Regions from separate parts of the Homo sapiens genome. Here region 1 is linked to region 2. Evidence: fine-mapped expression QTL. A gene starts in region 2. The other region holds a variant in brackets. All regions are shown on one strand. Distances are between the middles of the regions. Region 1 overlaps JAZF1-AS1 (JAZF1 antisense RNA 1). Region 2 holds the start of JAZF1 (JAZF zinc finger 1).

What was found. PIP is the estimated chance that this variant, and not a neighbour inherited with it, causes the effect.
Region 1: its variant is fine-mapped to the expression of JAZF1 in whole blood (INTERVAL, PIP 0.97).

Annotation. Positions count from the first base shown.
Region 1 is chr7:28,212,481-28,221,404 of GRCh38, reverse strand. JAZF1-AS1 (JAZF1 antisense RNA 1) reads right to left here. Exons shown (of 4, transcript NR_034097.1): 3 at 4,056-4,162. Among named protein-coding and RNA genes, the nearest start is that of JAZF1, 36 kb to the right of the region's middle. The variant C/T (reference allele first, on the strand shown) is at 4,784.
Region 2 is chr7:28,175,486-28,184,409 of GRCh38, reverse strand. It overlaps JAZF1 (JAZF zinc finger 1), which reads left to right and starts at 3,615. Exons shown (of 5, transcript NM_175061.4): 1 at 3,615-3,947. The coding sequence starts at 3,833. JAZF1-AS1 (JAZF1 antisense RNA 1) reads right to left here and starts at 3,953. Exons shown (of 4, transcript NR_034097.1): 1 at 3,871-3,953. RefSeq lists a silencer at 4,421-4,540 and enhancers at 4,395-4,894, 4,895-5,396.

The DNA of each region.
Region 1 (8,924 bases), 37 kb before region 2:
TTTTGCACTTTTTTAAACGTGCAGGAGGGCAGATAATTAAAAGCTCCACCCTGGCCACCTCATCAGAGGAAACCTAACCATTTCTGGGTTTAGTTCTTCCTTACATAATAAGTTTATATATTTTTTCAAAAATCTACTTGTCAATTTAAGAGATTATTGTTCAAAAGATTCAAGAATATTCAAGAGATTGCCAGAAAGGCAAAAACGTCATTCATTTTCATTATTCTTTTTCTACCCTCCTCCAAAATGTTAATGACTATCACTCTAGTTCCTTTATAGGTTACCTTCATTATATGCTTACATAGACTTCTAGTTCTTTTTCATCAGTTTTGGCCATTACCTCCTGATTCATCACTTTAATAGTTAAGTATATTAAGACCCTTTTAGAAGTGTTTCCAGCTATAGCTAATAATTCCACATCTGTCTCTTTATCCTTACTTGAAGCCACCAGTGTTCAGTGTCACCAGTGTTCACTGTCATTTCACTGGTGTTCACTGAAGTAACATCCTAAATGCTCTCCTTCAGTCCTTTCATATTTTCTAATCTAGAAACTCAAATTTGAGCGTGCATTAGAATCCCCTGGTAGGCTTGTTCAATCACAGATTGTTGCTCGCACCCCCAGTGTTCCTGACTGAGCAGATGAAGAGTAAGGCCTGAGGAGCTGCATTTCTAACAAGTTCCCAGGTGAGGCGGATGCTGCTGGTCCAGGAACACACTTTGAGAACCACTGCTCTAATCCATTCTCTGCACTGACACGAATCTCCTAAGCATTGGCATACAGACTCCTTTCTACTCTGGCACACATTGTCTTTTTAAAACAGTTTTACTGAGATAGAATACATATCATCCAATTCACCATGTAAGTGTACAATTCAATGATTTGTAGTATATTTATAGAGTTGTATATACATCACCACAATCAATTTTAGAATTCTGAAAGAAACCCTGCATCCCTTAGTCATCACCCTTAATATTTATTTTGATAATATCGAGTTCCTATTGTGTCTTATTGGTCTTTGCATCCCTAGCACTTAACACAATACCTACAGTAGGCATCAATTAGTGTTTGTCGAGTGAATGCAAAAAATGCAATCAATTCAGTTAATAAGCTGTAGCTAAGATTTTACCATATAATTAAAAAGCATAGAATATATTACAACAAAGACTGTTAGTTACCTCCTGGTAACAAGACTCCTCTTCTTAGTAACAGAACCTCAATTCACATTTGGGTACACTGCTCTCCAGCTAAAAGATCACACTTTCCATTCTTCCTTGTAGCTAGGTTGGCCATGTGACTAAGTTCTAACCAAGGAGATGGAAGTTAAAGTATTATGTAAAACATTTGAGAAGTCTTCCAAAGGGAAGGGGCAATGCCCCTTTTCAGCCTTTCCCTTCTCCTGCTGCCTGGAACTAGGATGTGATATCTGGAGCTCTAGCAGCCATATTGGACAATGAGGATAAGGAAACAGAAAGCTGGAAGAGCCTTTGACCCTGAAGACCAAGGAATTACATGCCACCTTTTACAGGAAAATACTTTTAAATCTTAAGCCTCTATTTTTGGAATTTTAATTGATTGGAGACTAATGTGATCCTCACTGATTTATCAAAGCCTATGCTGTTTCCACCACGCTACAGGATTCAAGGCACAAAAATGCCTTCTGTTATTACTGTTGAATTGAACACACTTTTTGTTGTCACCTGTTAGTGCTCCTTTGGGCATCCCTTGAATTTGGGGTCAATATCAAAGTGTTTCAGTTTGTTGGAGTAGCATTGATTCATTGAAAGAGAATAGGTAGACAGTCTTAGAGTCAATCTTGGTTCTGTCTCTTAATAAACCTTGCTGAGCCTCAACTTCTTCCACCAGAGAGTTGTAACAAGACCCTACCTGTAGGCTTGTCAGGAAGATGAAAGAAGAAAGGCATGTGACACATCCAAAGGAGTGGCTGACACATAGCACAGAATGCTTCTTCCTGCTCATGCGGGGTCTGTCTAGGGAGCTCAGGTCAGAAACGAGTTAATTTGAGACATCTTGATCATTTCACAGCATCCACAAGAAACATTAGACAATTCTGATTTAGAGGAATCTGAGCCAGATTATAAACTACACGAGGGCAGGGACTGTCTTGTTTAATGCTATATCCCTATTGTGTAGAAACAGCAGCATTCAAGGAACGTTGGCCGAATTAGTGGATAAAAGCATCTTAAGTTCTGTGACTTCAATGCCTCAGAATCAATATTTCCCTGCATGTAACAGAGACTAAGTATAGACCAGTGTTCCTTGTAAAGTGACCAATCAAACCTCTATCAGAATCTTCTGAGGCCATTGCTAGACCAGGGTCCAAAACACCCCCTACAGCTGTTTCAGGGTCCTTGAACTCTGCACCCAAAAGATGGGACATTATGCGCAACCATCATTTATAAGCATCAGGCAATGGGATGCACGTGAAAGTCACAACATGGCAAAATAGAAGCAACCAGATTAAATCAACCTTAATCCCGAGCGCTTGGGAACATTCACATTCTTTTTTTTTTTTTTTTTTTCATTTTTTTCTCCTCTTGGGAAGAGCATTGGCGGGGTGATAAATTCTGTACCCAGACCCTGACTCACCTACTCTGTTAGGAAAAAGAACTCTTCTCACCTCCAGAGCTCTTATGAGCTAACTGCTGAAAACTTTTATGAGCTTTTTTACAAAATGCAATATCCCTACAATGATTCTAGTAGCTGCCTCAGGAGAGAAGCAGCATTTTTTCCTTTTTCTTTTCTTTTTTTTTTTTTTTTGACACAGAGTCTCGCTCTGTCGTCCAGGCTGGAGTGCAGTGGTGCAATCTCGGCTCACTGCAAGCTCTGCCTGCCGGGTTCACGCCATTCTCCTGCCTCAGCCTCCCGAGTAGCTGGGACTACAGGCATGCGCCACCATGCCTGGCTAATTTTTTGTATTTTCAGTAGAGATGGGGTTTCAAAGGTTTAACTGAAGCGCCATGCAATCCCCTTGGAAATTCCCTCTTCAAGTCTGTAAAATAAGCAGGAAACAAATACAAGCGTCTCAAACTTCAGATACTCATTTTGAGAAACAGGTGCAAGCCTTGTGGCCCTCATATCCAAGAAAAGCATCAGTGTTGATCCACCAGCAATTTTCAGGAAGCAGATTTTGCAAAGGAGATCAACTCTGTGTGTGTAAAAAGATTTGGAGCCCAAACCATAAGAAGTTATGGAAGAAAGGAAAGAATATGGCATTTCTCTCCCAGGCAGGGCATTTCCTATCCTAGTCAAGCTCAAGGATCCCCAGGGCACCAACTCACCACCCTGCCCTTCTTTACTTTCTTACCTTCCTGGGCTTCTGTCCATCTTTAAAACTTTAAAGGAGTAAAGTACTAATAGATGCTATAACATGAAAGCCTTGAAAACACTACGCTGAGTGAAAGAAACCAGGCACAAAGGGCCACATACTGTATGATTCCATTTACATAAAGTATCTAGAATAGGCAAATCTATAAAGACAGAAGATGGATTAGTTGCTCCTTAGGGGTGGAGTGGAGGGATAGAGGAATAGGGGATCATAGCTAAAACGAATGAATTTTCTTTTTTGAGGCGATGAGAATGTTCTAAGATTTACCATGGGGATGCTTGCACAACTCTGTGAAGATACGAAAAACCATGCAATTGTACACTTTGAATGGGTGAATTGTATGTTATATGAATTATATCCCAATAAAGCTCTTACCAAGAAAAATCCTTTTATGACTAGTTTTAAAGCACATTATGCTTTATGTAAAATTTTACCTAACTGTTATTGCAAGGCCATTCCAGAAAGGACACTGTGGATGAGCGGGGCAAGTGAATGTATTTAATTGACGTCATTCAGAGCTTCCCAAGAAGTACTCCAAAGGACAGCATGTTTTCAGCTGTTAATAGGTGAAATAATTGTTTTAAAAGGCTCCACAGTCAAGGAAATTTAAGAACAACAAAGTTAAATTTCAACAGGATCTCTACTGCTGGAGCACTCAGAGATTTAATAGGCAGACATGCATTGTGCATCTCCAAGAAGAGGATTTACCAAACCGGTTTAATCTTGAAGCCTTTTGTCACAGAGCATGGTGCAGAGTCAGTCTTCCATGACATGTATGCTGGTAAATGCATTTACTTTAATCTCAACAGGAACCCCTGGAAACAAACGTTATGCAAAAATTAACATAGGTCCTCATACAATGGTAACATTTTCATTTACATGTCTGCGTCTGATTTTAAAAGTTCACTTATAAACATTGTTTTTGCTTTCTAAATTCTTTTCATTCTATATTTAATATATGTAAACATAAGGAGTGTGATTTAGAGTAGAAATTCTCTTTTTCGCTAAGTAATAAGAGATTTTCTGGTATAACTTGGCTTGCTTCTATGAAGTGGAGTTTGCTTTATGTTTGTTTTATTTTTCTCCTGAAATAGAAAGGCATTCTAAGAACATATAAAAATCCTCAGTAATCCTTCTGTCCCTGGCCCATAGATCAAATCGTTCTCTCAGAATTCCACTCAACTGCATTTCTCAGCAAAGATGTATTGGCAAGCTAAATGGAGAGGTTTCAAATTACTCAGGCTTTATTAATTTTACAAAATATGCTTTGAAGTATTATAATAAATAATTAAAAGTAAATAGCACTTTTGAGATTAGTGAGCAGATGCTTGCAGGCATTACTGTTTCTTTCCTACCCTGTTCTCCACTTGCAGTGCCACAGAAAAGACAATCCATTGCTGCATCTTCCTCCCATCACTGCATCACGGCTTGAGTTC[C/T]ATTGCCCAGACGTATTGAGAAATAACAATTCAAGAAGGGAGGGAAGGAGACTAATAACTACTGAGCATAAAAACTGGATAGATAGAATGACAAGAAAAAGTACTCTCAGCCGGGGAAGGCGCCAGGTTGAGAAACTTCAGGTACTCATCTAAAGTGTGACACCTATCAGTAACTCTGTTTGGCAACTAATATTAAGAATTGTTTGCAGTGGGCTTTGCACTTTACAAAGCACCATCAGATGCAATATCTTAACCTTCAAAACAATTGTGAGAGGTAGCTCCTTTTTCCCTGTTTTACAGATGGAGAAATTGGGGCCCAGAGAAATTAAGAAACAGGCCTAAGATTCTCAGATAGAATACTGTGGAACAGCAATTTGACTCTGAGGCTTCTGAATTCAAAATGTACTCTCTTTCCACCTTCACTCAGCTGGGAGAAGTTAGAAAGGCAGGCTGGGAAGAGATTGCAAAGGTCTTTGAATAACAGAGAAGTTTATCCTTTACCTTGCAGGCACTATAATTATTATCTAAAGGCATACAGCTACAACATGCTTAGGCAAATAGATTAGCCATTTCTGATTATCTTAAGAAAATTTCCCAGTGTATTTAACCTGTAAATGAGTTCAAACAATCATTTTTGAAAAGCATCAAATGTTTACTTGCTTCTTGTTGTTGTTTATTTTGCCATTTTTGTGGGTTTTGTTTGTTTGTTTTTGGTTTTGTTGTTTTTGAGACAGGATCTCACTCTGTCACCCAGGCTGGAGTGCGTTGGCACAATCTCAGTTCACTGCAGCCTCAACCTCCTGGGCTCAAGTGATCTTCTCGTCTCAGTCCCCTGAGTAGCTGGGACCATAAGTGTGCCACCACGCTGGCTAATTTTTGTAAATATTTTTTGTAGAGACAGGGTTTTGCCATGTTTCTCAGGCTGGTCTGGAACTCCTAAGTTCAAGCCATCTGCCTTCCTCAGCCTCCCAAAATGCTGGGATTACAGGCATGAGCCACTGCACCTAGCCTACTTTCTGCTTTTACTCCATCTTACAAATGTTCATTGTGTACATAGTCCGGGATCATTTTAAAAGAGGTCCATATCTATCAGTTATTCATAAAGGATCCAAATAAACTAATTTCCTAACCCTATGTCTGTCCTTCCAAGCTTTACACTGGAACAGGAAGCAATATAAAGAAAGTTCTAAATCCAATATTATGTATTAATTATTCAATGCACATTAATTGAGCATTTACTATGTGTTAGGTAGGCATCTATGTCAGGGACTGTGCATTCAAAAAATGAAGACCACATGTCCCTACCATTATAGAGCTTACAGCTAAATATAGCAAAGCATCCAGGCAAACAGAGCACAGTGTGATAAAGAATAAAACAGAAGTCCGGATGCGGTGGCTCACACCTGTAATCCTAGCACTTTGGGAGGTCAAGCCAGGTGGATTGCCTGAGCTCAGGAGACCAGCCTGGGCAACGTGGTAAAACCCTGTCTCTACTAAAATACAAAAAAATTAGCAGGGCATGGTGTCATACGCCTGTAGTCCCAGCTACTTGGGAGGCTGAGGCAGGAGAATTGCTTGAACCTGGGAGGCGAAGGTTGCAGTAAGCTGAGATCGTGCTCCTGCACTCCAGCATGGGCTACAGAGCGAGACTCCATCTCCAAAGAGAATAAGACAGAAAGCATAGAGAGACATAGGAGCACATCACTAGACTTAGGAGTTGGTGAGGTTTCCTTGAGGAAGTGACATGCAGGCTGAAGGACCAGTGGGAGTACAATGGTGTCAGGGCTAGAAGCAGAGATTCCAAGCCTGACTTTTGCATTAGATTCACCTGGAGAGTTTTAAAAACTACTGCTGTCTAGACCCCACCCAGGCCAATTCCATCTGAATCTCCAAGAACAAGGTTCATTCAGGCAGCAATTTTTATAAATCTCCACAAGTGATTCTAATGTGCAGCCCTATTCTAGAATCAGTGACTTCAATCTTTACTAAAAAGTGTTTCAGAGTGGAAACGATGTGAACCATCTCTAAATTCAGATTTCAGTTCCATGTAAAGTCAAAGTAAATAATTTTCAGATGATTTTCTTGGTATCTATAATGTGACCTTTATCTTAATTATCTTGGGTTTCAAGAATATTTATGGCAAAGGGGACATGATAAAATTTTTTTACAAAAAAAAAAAGATGACTCTGAATAGTCTCAATATTGCTAGCTTTTCCTAACAGTTGGGAGAAAACAGCTTTTGTGGTAACTATCCCTGTGCTTACCAGCATTTTCTGTTCTGCTACTATGGGCAGTGGGAAGACTATTCTTCCTTGCCCCTTTAAAATTATGAGTGGTCACCTGACTCTTTAGCCAATAAATAGTGAGCAGAATTGATGTGTGTCTCTTCCATGAGGAAGTATGTAAGAGCTGGTCACATGTTCTCTTCCCCCACCTCAGTGATCCCTGAAGGCTTGGATGGCAATGGTAACATCTTAAGACAGAGGGATGATGAGGTCAAAGCACACTGGAGCGCTGAGCACCCCACAGAGAGCACTTACCTTGCAGAGCCACTCATGACATGCATTGTTTTAAACCACTAAGATTTTAGGGTCTTTATCACCTAAAATTCAGTTTATTACTGCAGCACAACCTAGTCTCACCTAGTAACTACCTTCTCAACCAGGCAGATCCCTAAGTTTGTATTTTCTTTCCCTAATTCATGAATTTTCTACTCACATGCTTTTCCATGATCAATATTAACAATTAATATCCATCCTTCCTTCTTTATTTTTATTCTCTCTTCTTTTCCTCCTCCTTTTCTCACTACTTTTTTCTTTCCTTTCTACTTAATCACTCATTTTAAAAATCACTGGAGATGCCCAAGAAGAAGGAAAGTTAGAAAGTAGTTGAGTGGGTGGTGGCCCAGCAGGCTGAAGGATTTGTTGCATACAGGGGGACTGAACAAATAAATACAGTCGGCCCTCCCTAGCTATAGATTCCACATCTGTGAATTCAACCAACTGTACATCAAAAATATTTTTTAAACAACATCTGCACTGAACATGTGCAGACTTTTTTCCTTGTCATTATTCCCCAAATAATATAGTAAAACAAGTATTTACATAGCATTTACATTGTATTTAGTATTATGAGTAATCTTGAGATGATTTAAAGTATTCAGACAGGCTGGTCATGATGGCTCATGTCTGTAATCCCAGCACTTTGGGAGGCTGAGAGGGGAGGATTGCTTGAGGCCAGGAGTTTGAGACCAGCCTGGGCAACATAGTGAGATGCCATCTCTATAAAAAATTTAGACAATTAACTGTGTATGGTGGCACATGCCTGTAGTCCTAGCTACTCAGCAGGCTGAAGTGGGAGGACTGCTTGAGTTCCAGAGGTTGAGATGGCAGTGAGGCATGCTTGCACCACTGCAATCCAGCCTGAGCAACAGAGAGAGACCGTGTCTCCAAAATAATTTTTTAAGTATTCAGGAGGATATGATTAGGTTATATGCAAATACTATGCCATTTTAGATCAGGGACTTTAGCATCTGCAGATTGTGGTATCCTTGGGACGGCCTAAAACCAATCTCCCCATGGATATGAAGGGATAACTGTATATTGAGGATTATGCAGCCGGGTTCCTTTGCTGCCTGATAAGAGAATTTTAAATATGAAAAGGTGAAACGATTGTGTTTGAATTGAAGTGGAGGAACTGCTATAAACTTATATATATATATATAATTAGATAGATATAAAAATGAATCTAGATGTTTCAATGTTCTGTCCTTGTTCTGTCCACTGAGAGATCCTGGAAGCAGCAATAGGCCAATAGCAGTAAGCCTACATAGCTTACAGATTTCTAGAAACCATTTTCCACTAACAGAAGAGATCTTAGAAAAAAAGAAAGACAGATTTCAGGGCTGGTGCAGCAAAAGCACAATTTGCTTCTGCTTTTTTTGAGTCTGAAAAATAACATATTATTATTATTATTATTATTATTGAGACAGGGTCTGGCTCTCTGTTGCCCAGGCTGGAGTGCAGTGGTGCAATCTCAGCTCACTGCAACCTTTGTCTCCCAGGCTCAAGCCATCCTCCCACCTCAGCCTCCCGAGTAGCTGGGACTACAGGTGGGCACCACCACATCCAGTTAATTTTTA
Region 2 (8,924 bases):
CTAGGGGCTAACACTCATGAGGTCACTGGTGGCAACTAATAAGAATACCCCCATTACTCATTCTAAGGCTAGCTCTTAATCCTAGGCAAAATGAGACTGAGGGACAAAATGAGAATTAATCACCAGAGAGCAGATAAAGCTGATTCATTTCTGAGCTGGAATAAAATAAATACAGAAAACTTGGTTACATAAATATTAAACAATAAAACCTGGAATAGAAATCATCCTCCTTAGAAGAAGATGGAGCCTAAAAAGAAGGCATCCCTTTGAGCCCAAGGTTGCTGTTGGTGGAAGTGGCAGCCTTAGCATTCAAGAGCCAGGGAACATCAGACATTGTAAGCGTCCACAGACTTGCATGAGCTGAAGAAGACCAAGGTTCATGATCTGCTCCTTCGACACAGTGGTGACAATAGAAGAAATATCTAGTAAACCTGAAAAGCACCTCAAGAGGGACCTGGAAAACAATCTAAAAAGCCAGAGAAAGCTACAGTTGAAGGCAGTATAGAGTTAGATTCAAGATAGAATCTAATGTTCATATAGATCCTCTTGCATCATTAACAGATGTCCACACAGGACACAGGAAGTGCACGGTTTTGATTATCAGTGTATGCCAAAATAAACCAATTCCTGTATGTGGAGGACAGACAGCTGTATGAAGCAGGATCCTCAGTGTCTTCAGTTGGCTCCATTAGACCAGTGGATTCACACCTTCCGGCAGCTGCCCCATCTCGAGGGCACTGGACATGCTGGATTTGGGGAGACTGTTATGCGATCTCAAACCATTTGTAATGCTAAGTACCATATTATGGGGCCACTGCACATCCATACTTTGTGCCTATACATTGGGAGGCACTGGGCTCTGGGGAGAGACAGATGGTTTTCAAGAAAAGGCTCTTAAACCCAGAGAATGCTTCTTGTCTACAGCCACTGTCATATCATTCTGACTTCTCAGTTCCCTCACTTTCCCTCTCCTTTCAAATATTTTTACTTTCCAAATCAGACAGATGTTTTTTGCCAGTACAGAGGTATATCAGTCATCACCTTCTCTCTCGGATGTAATAAGTTGAATTGTTTGTTTTATATATTTTTGTAGCTTAGATGTTGACTTTATCTAAAGGGATATCCTGGAAACAAACATTTTAAAAATATAAGTACAGAAAGGTAAGCATGCTATTAGCAATTTTTAAAAAACTTTGCCTGTGGTTACTATCTATATATAATTTGTCCTTCTATTGTCTATCAATGCCTTCTAAATGCACCATGAGTACAGAGAAAAAAACTGTCTGTGTGCACCTGGGAGAACTTGCTTGATGCCCCGGCCTCAGTTTACCACATCTCCAAAACCAGTGGTTCTGACAGCCAGAGTATCTTCCAGGTCTAAGAGATCACAATCATGTATCTTATATAAAGACCGGAAATGCCTAGAGTGTACAGATTTTTAAAAAGTAGTATGAGCAGAACATCACATAAACAAAGCTTCAGTCACATATGAAGAAGTAGTAGGGTGGATTATTTTCAGGCAAAATGAACTGATTCCTTACAAAACAGTAATAATTATCCAAGGTAGAGAAAATAATTTTGTCTTAAAAACCAATATCTTGATTTACTTTGGAAGTTATTTTAGCTCACTTCATTTTTTAAAAAATCTATTTTTTTCAATTTGGTCTAGCAAGGTTTTATTTTAGGAATAGTGAAACTGACAGGAGGTAGTAGAAAGCCATGCATTAGTGAAACCCAGGCCCCTTACTTCCTTCATCTTTCACCTGCACATTTCTGGCACTTCCCATCTCGGAACTCTCTTGCCTGAACCACCTCTCCACACTCTTGGGAGTTAATAACTCCACGTAGACAATTTTTCCTCTGGAGGACAGAACTGCTACTTCTTCAAAGCTTTTGGGGCTCCCAGATGCTGCATAGTGGGGGTGCCTAACATTCATCTCTAAGGGTGGCTGTTTTGGCATCATTTTTGGCTGAAGTTTTGTATTGCATTTCCATGTCATTTGGTGTGGTGTGTGCCTGCCAGATATTCTGCCTGCTCTCAGCTGAAGGCCTTCCCAGATTGGGCAGCTGAATGTACTGCACAGCTGCCAAAATTCTAATTCAAGATCTAGAATTCTAACTCCTGCTCTTTAGACCCTTGTCTGGCCTTGGCCTCAGTCCCCTGCCAACTCGGTCCCTGGCTCATTATCAGGCCCACCAGGGCCCTGCCCCCACCCTCATTGGGCCCATGAAACCATTCTTGGCACCAAACTGAACTTCAAGACACAGCTGCCCCAGCCCCACCCAAGCCGAATCTCATCTCAGCAAGTTTGTCACCTTGTGAGCTGCAAGACAGAAGAGATGAGAAGAGAAAATGCCACCGGTGATGGTCAGATCATAAAACTTCCTGTAGCAACAGACATATTACATGTGCCTTTACTCTAAGCACTTACATGAAAAGCAAACAATCCCATTATTAGAAATAACACTAGACAGAGATGCATAGAGTTTATGGAGGGAGGAATACTATTTCTCCATGCATCTGCACCAGAGGGTAAGTGAAATTTGCCCTAAGGAAAAATGCTAAATTCAGTATGCATATATTAATATTAATAAAAAAAATGTACTGTTGGGTCATAAACTGCTGATAATGTGTAATATTTCTTAGACACCTGGAAAAGTGCTACTGGAAAATACACACTTTACAGAAGAAATATGACTGCAACTGGAGGAGGGGGTGGGGACAAGAAAGTAATTGATTCTCAGCAAAATGCTGGTTTTCAGGGAAGCTACTAAATTCACCTTAAGTGGTTACCTGGTCAACATTATGCTTTAAATGCTCACAGGATGAAATCGCTTCCTTTTTAAATGAAGAGTCACTATGTCCCTTGCCGTTGTTTCCGCTCCTTCTAGCCTTAACCAATGCACTGTCCTTTCTGCAGTGGCTGAAACGAGGATGGGTTAATTACCAGACCTGAGATGGTGGAGTGGGTGCAGTAGGGTGCTGTAATTTCGGGTGATGAAATTATTTTAGTTTTTGTTTTCCTAGAAGGAGCAGGGAGTATAAAAAACGTGGCACATATGTAAAACACAGGCAAATGCACTTGACAACCAAGCACTCTATTTTGAAATTTAAATAAAGCTAAGATTTTTTTCTGGCCTAGAGGGAAAGCTTCATTAAAATCAATTAGTTAGTACAAACCTCCGGAGAATGTGTACTTTTTCTAAAGAAGGTTTAAAGAAGAAGGTGCACACAATTACCTTTCCTGGGTCCCCTGTGAATGTGTCACACCTAGACAGGTGGCTGAGTACAAAAAAATGTCCCTGAGAGGGACCAGGGTAACTCCCTGAGTTCTCCTCGCAGGGAGGTAGGTGTAATTAATCGATGTGGGTGTATTAAGAACGTCATATACATAACCAAGGAGGCTCCAAACAGATGGCACGGATGGCAAGCCGTAAAGGGCAGGCCTAGCGAGATAAAGTTGGTGGCAGGGCTCGCAGGTGAGGCCTGGGTCCGCGCGCTGAGGTTGGGGCCGCACAGCTGTAGCCGCGCGCCCTGGTCCCTCCTCCCAGCTGCGGCGGCCTTCCCCCCCCGCCCCCGCCCCCGCCCTCCCCCCGCCGCTCCCGACGCCGCCGCCGCAGCCGCCGCCTCCCCTCTGCCTCCCGGTGGCTCCTCGCTCTCCTTCCATCTCTCTCGCCCCCTCTCCCTCCGTCCCGTCCTCGCCGCTCCCCTCACCCCGCCTCTCTCCCCCTCCCCCAGCCCCTCCTCTCCTCACCCCACCCGGCCTCCCTCCCTCCCTCGCCCGCCCGGCGCTCGCAGAGCCGACACCAGGGGGGCTCTCGATGTAGCACCATGACAGGCATCGCCGCCGCCTCCTTCTTCTCCAATACCTGCCGATTCGGGGGCTGCGGACTCCACTTCCCCACCCTGGCCGACCTCATCGAGCACATCGAGGACAACCACATCGGTAAATGGCCCGGGGGTGGGCGGGGGTGCCAGGCGCGCGGAAACTCCTGCCCGGGCGGGGAGCCCCGGAATGGCCAGGGGTGGCCGGCGGGGAGGGAGGCGGCAGGGCGGGGAGGGCGCGTGCGAGCCCCGAGGTGGGGGTGGCGGGATGCGGGGGCGCGAGGTGCCGGGGGGCGGGGAGCGGGCTCGGGTGGGGGAGGGGGCGGGCGCCCCGAGGTGCCGCGGGCGGGCGGGCGGGCGGCTGGGGGACTCAGGGGCGTGCACGCGGGCTGCGAAGTGGTGGGAGCGGGGAGCGCCGCGGCGGGGCGGCGGGGTTGCGGCGGCGGGGCCGAGTGCCGGCGCGCGGGGCGCGGGGCGGAGGGCGCGGCGGGCGGCGGGAGCTGGGCGCTGGGCAGGGTCGCGGAGTTAGTTGGCCCGGGTGGTCGGAGTAGCCCGAGGCGCTGAGGGCAGCGGGGGGCGGGCGCTGCACGCCGCCGGGCGCTTCCGCCCCGGCTCGAGCTGTCAGGGCTCGGCGGCGGCTGCAGCCGCGGGGAGGTGGAGCGGGGGGGCGGGGGTGGCTCCACCGCGGCAGCCATTCCGCTTCCTCCTCCCGCCGCCGCCGCCGCCACTGCGTCCTGTCAGCGCCGGTTGCTAGGTGTGGTGCGTCGGGAGGGGGCCGGGGCCGGCGGCCGCGGGCGGGGGCCGGGGAGCTTGCCCTCTCCCTGGGAGGCGGCCGAGGGGCCCGGGCGGGGCCGGGGACGCGGGCCCGGGGGCTCTGGGTGCCCTCCCCTGCCCCGGCCTGGCGCGGACGCCCGGGCGCTGCGGGCTGAGGTCTTGGGTGCGCCCGCGGGCCGCGCCCAGCGCCCCGGGGTCGACGCGCCCTGGAGGCCCCTGCGGCGGCGCCCGCTGGAGAGACACCCCCAGGGCCCATGGCCGGGCATTTAAATGCACCCCGGCTCTGCGATTTGCCTTTCTAATGGTGCTAGGCCCGAGGTGCGCTGGCTGCGCCCTGGGATCGGCGGCGGCCTGCGCAGCGCCCCGGGCCCGGGAGACGCCGGGGAGGGGGCGCCCCGCAGGGTGGCTGCTTTCCCTTCACGCCTGGACCCCTGGACCTTTCAACAAGTCCTCTGATTTGCAGAAGTCATTGCACACATTTTCACACTTCTATTCGGAACCCCTGCTAAGGGAGGTGGGCCGGGTGCATCTGGCTTAGGCGGTCCAACCACCTGCGGAAGGTGTGACCGACGCCAGCGAGTTGTCCTGCGTGGGCTAGAAGGTGAAGGGTCCGAGCGATGTCCCAATGGGGCTGTCTAATCCAGAGAACCTGTAAATTGCCCCCAGGAAGTCCAAATGAATGCCATGGATTCAGCCATGTGGATGCAGCTCACGTTTCTACAAAGTTGAGAGAATAAATCACGACTGCTGTGTATTTATGCAGGAATAAAATGAGGCAGAACCCTATGCTCCTTTGCTTAGTATAGTGCTGTCTCTGCACACAGTGGCTGCTTAATAAGTGTTGAATGCCTGTTTAGAATGTGATTTGATGGGCCATCCGGAATAGGAGATAATCATGGGAAACGTCTACAAAATGTCTTTCAGAGGAAAATGCTGTTGAGTAATTGTCCAGGTTTTGAAACTTTTCAAGTTTTCAGGCGTCCTTGTAATAGCTTCTTCCATTTCCTCTGCTAAAGGTATGACAGAAGAGCTGGGCAAGTTTTGGTAGTCTTAAAAGCAGTTTAATGGAGCAACCAATTTGCTGATTCATATCATGATTGAATAGTCATAACTGAAAGTGCTTGAAAGTATTAAATCAGATTTTTCATGATGGCTAGTTTAAAATAAAGCGAAAACACCGGTACTGTGAAGTTCTGGTAGAAATGTTACTAGTTCAAGTTCTTCCCCTTACTCCCAATAATAAGTAAAAAATAAATATAGATAATGCTATACATTAATATGTATGATATAAGTAATATAAATAAATAATTTCTCTTGACTTACAGAAGGCTGTCATTGCATATCCCATCCATTCTCGCTAACAGTTATTTCAGAATAAACTATAATTTATATAAGCTGAGTAATAATTTTACCCCATTGCCTACCTACTTAGACAAGCTGGTTAAAAGACAGTATAAATTATATTTATTAAAATGTGTTAAAGACAGTTATCCTTCTTGAGGATTTAGTTTGAGATGGTTTAAAACTTGGTGAATCATGAGGTTTTTTTTTTAAGTGTAGAAATTGTCTTAATATTTTGCACACATTTTTAAAGAAGGTTAAGAGTTTGATACGTTTTCTAAAACTCAGCTTTGAAGTAATGCTACCTCATTCCCAGAAGGCTAGTGTTGTCCTTTTAATAGTGAAAATGTGGAAAAATTAAGTTTACAGCAATAGCAGTGACCTAGGTGAACTGTGTTGCAGGGCTAACACAGTTGAAAACAGTTTGAACCAGCAAACTTTATGAAAAGCAAATGTTAAAATGAACAAACACTTGCAATTCCCAGGATGAAGAGGCTCAAACTATTATACACTTCTGCTGGGGAGAGGCCCTTTACTATCAAAGGCAGCCCTATATGCAGAAAGAAGAACTGATCTTAAGAAGAATAAAAATATCCCAATTAGTAGATAGTGTCATATAAATACACTTCTGATGAAAAGACATGGGTGAAAATATAAAGCATTTAGTCAAAGTTCTAGACAGGTATTGTTATGTGGTATTTATCGTTTTTGATTCAATCTATAAGTATTTGGAGACCGTTAATGATTGACTTACTGATTTCATGTCTGTTGGTGAGTGGTTACATTAAAAAGATTCATGAAAAGAATAAGAGGTGTGTTATTTTGCTTTTAATTTGTTCAACAGTCTTGTTATTTAGCAACCGTGAGTATTAGAGATATGCTTAGGTGAGCATTCCATTTTGGGGGCCTATCTGGGTTATTACCTTTAGCCACTAGTAAAAACCCTTAAACAGCGATAAAATGAATATTTATGGGAATATGGTGTGTTTCTTGCTTGGCAGATTTTTCAAGGCCTGTGTTTTTCATTATAAAAGTATTATGTTTAGTTTGGATTAATTAAGTGCATTAAGTTGAGAATAACTCTCTGTTATCTTATATGTGTATGCTTAACTTTTGTTTTTAACTGTTTTCCTCTCCCCATAATGAACAAGGATTTGGGGGCTTTAGAACCAAGGGAAGTGTGATTTTCACCACCCACTTTTTTAGCTCTTTTCTCTCCTGGAAGAGTGCTGTACCGGTGTTCCTGTTTTCTTTCTTGCATTTCACTGCTGGTTCAGTACTGGAGTACCTGTCTCAGTGTATACACTGAATATCCTAGCTAAAACTCTCCCCCATCCCCACTTAAATTTAAATTGCCGAGAAATCCCGTAGCCCTGCAACTGTGAAGTGCTTTTCCATCAATTTTGTTATCAATTCATTCATAGGTCTGAGTCTGTTACATGGAGATGGGAAAAGCAGGTCCAGGTTTGCTTGCTTCTTATTTTGAGTAGATAATTGAGTTTGTAGAAACATTCTTGGTATGAACATCCTAGATAGATGAAGTTAAACTGGTAACTGGGAATCTTAGAAACACCAGGAGCACTAAATTTAGCACTGAAGGTCATGTCCCAGGCTCATGAAATGCCGCTACAACCCTGCATCCCAGTGCTATGAAATCGTATGGCTTTTTGTCTGAGAAACACAACTGTTGAATCATTCTTATTTGATTATTTGGTGCATTTTTAAAAGTACCTCTGCATTTTGAATTTATTTATGTAATAATATATATTGAGTCCCTAGTTTATGCCAGGCAAAGTTATGAGCACTTGATATTTTTTGGTTAACAAAATGAAAATATCACTCTTTAGGAAGTTTATATTCTAGGATAGGGGGCCAGACAATAAACAATTGAGGTATGTGATACACAGTATGTTGGGAGGTGGTTAGTGATACAGAAAAGAGAAAAACTAGATCAGGGTCCGGAGGGTTGGGAGGAGAAAGTATGAGAATTTTAAATAGATTGGTCAGGGTGGGCCTTGCTGAGAGGCTGATATGGGAGACAAAACCTCGAAGGAGGTGTGAGAGTTAGTCATGAGGACATTCTGGGCGCAGGCAGTACACAGGCCCCAAGGCAGGCCTGCAGCACTTGAATAGAAACACAGGAATCTGACCCAATTCAGTTATTCATGTGATCGTACCAGACTAGCAGGTCATTTAGAACTTTCCTCAGATGTTAGGATCCTCAGCTTTGCTATTGAAACATTTCCCTGCAAGGGCCCAGTTAAGGGGCAGAGTCTCATTGACCAAGAATGGCTTGCATTAGCTATGACTTGGTTCCTGACCCCGAATATCAACAGGTTTCTTGTTGTGAGTCTCTACTTGTTAGTTTCCTCATCTCCAAAACCCAGGTAATAAACCTACAGTGCTTCATTTCATAGTATAGATTTATAAACCGTCTAATTAATAAAGGTCAAAGTTTCTGTAAAAAAAAATCAGGGCACTTACTATCAAAACTGTAGAATTTAGCTCCTAAGATGATTTAGTAAATATTTGCATTATCTTCTCAAAGGAGCATCACAGTGTACTAAATAGATAAGCTGTGCAATATGTCATAGGTCCTTATTACTCCCACTTTTAGGTGAGCAAACTAAGGTACAGTTTATAATTGCCTGAGCTTTCGTGGCTGATGTGTATGATTTGAGATTTGAATTCCAGACAGGTATGCAAAGCTAAGCCTATGCCAGTTGCCAATTAGGTGAAGAACGTGACAGTCCCCTCCTCACCTCCCCTCACACGATTGACTCTGTTTCCTCCTTTAGAAAGTAACTGAACTCGAGATGAAGGTCATCTGAGCAGTGGCATAGCGAATCCAGCCTGCTTGGAGTTGAACACACATGTCTGCCACTTGTCCCCCTTATGACCAGGGGCAAATTAACCGTACTATGCCTCCTCTGTAAAATGAGGATAGTAGCAGCATCCATCTCACGGAGTGGTTAGTGAGGAT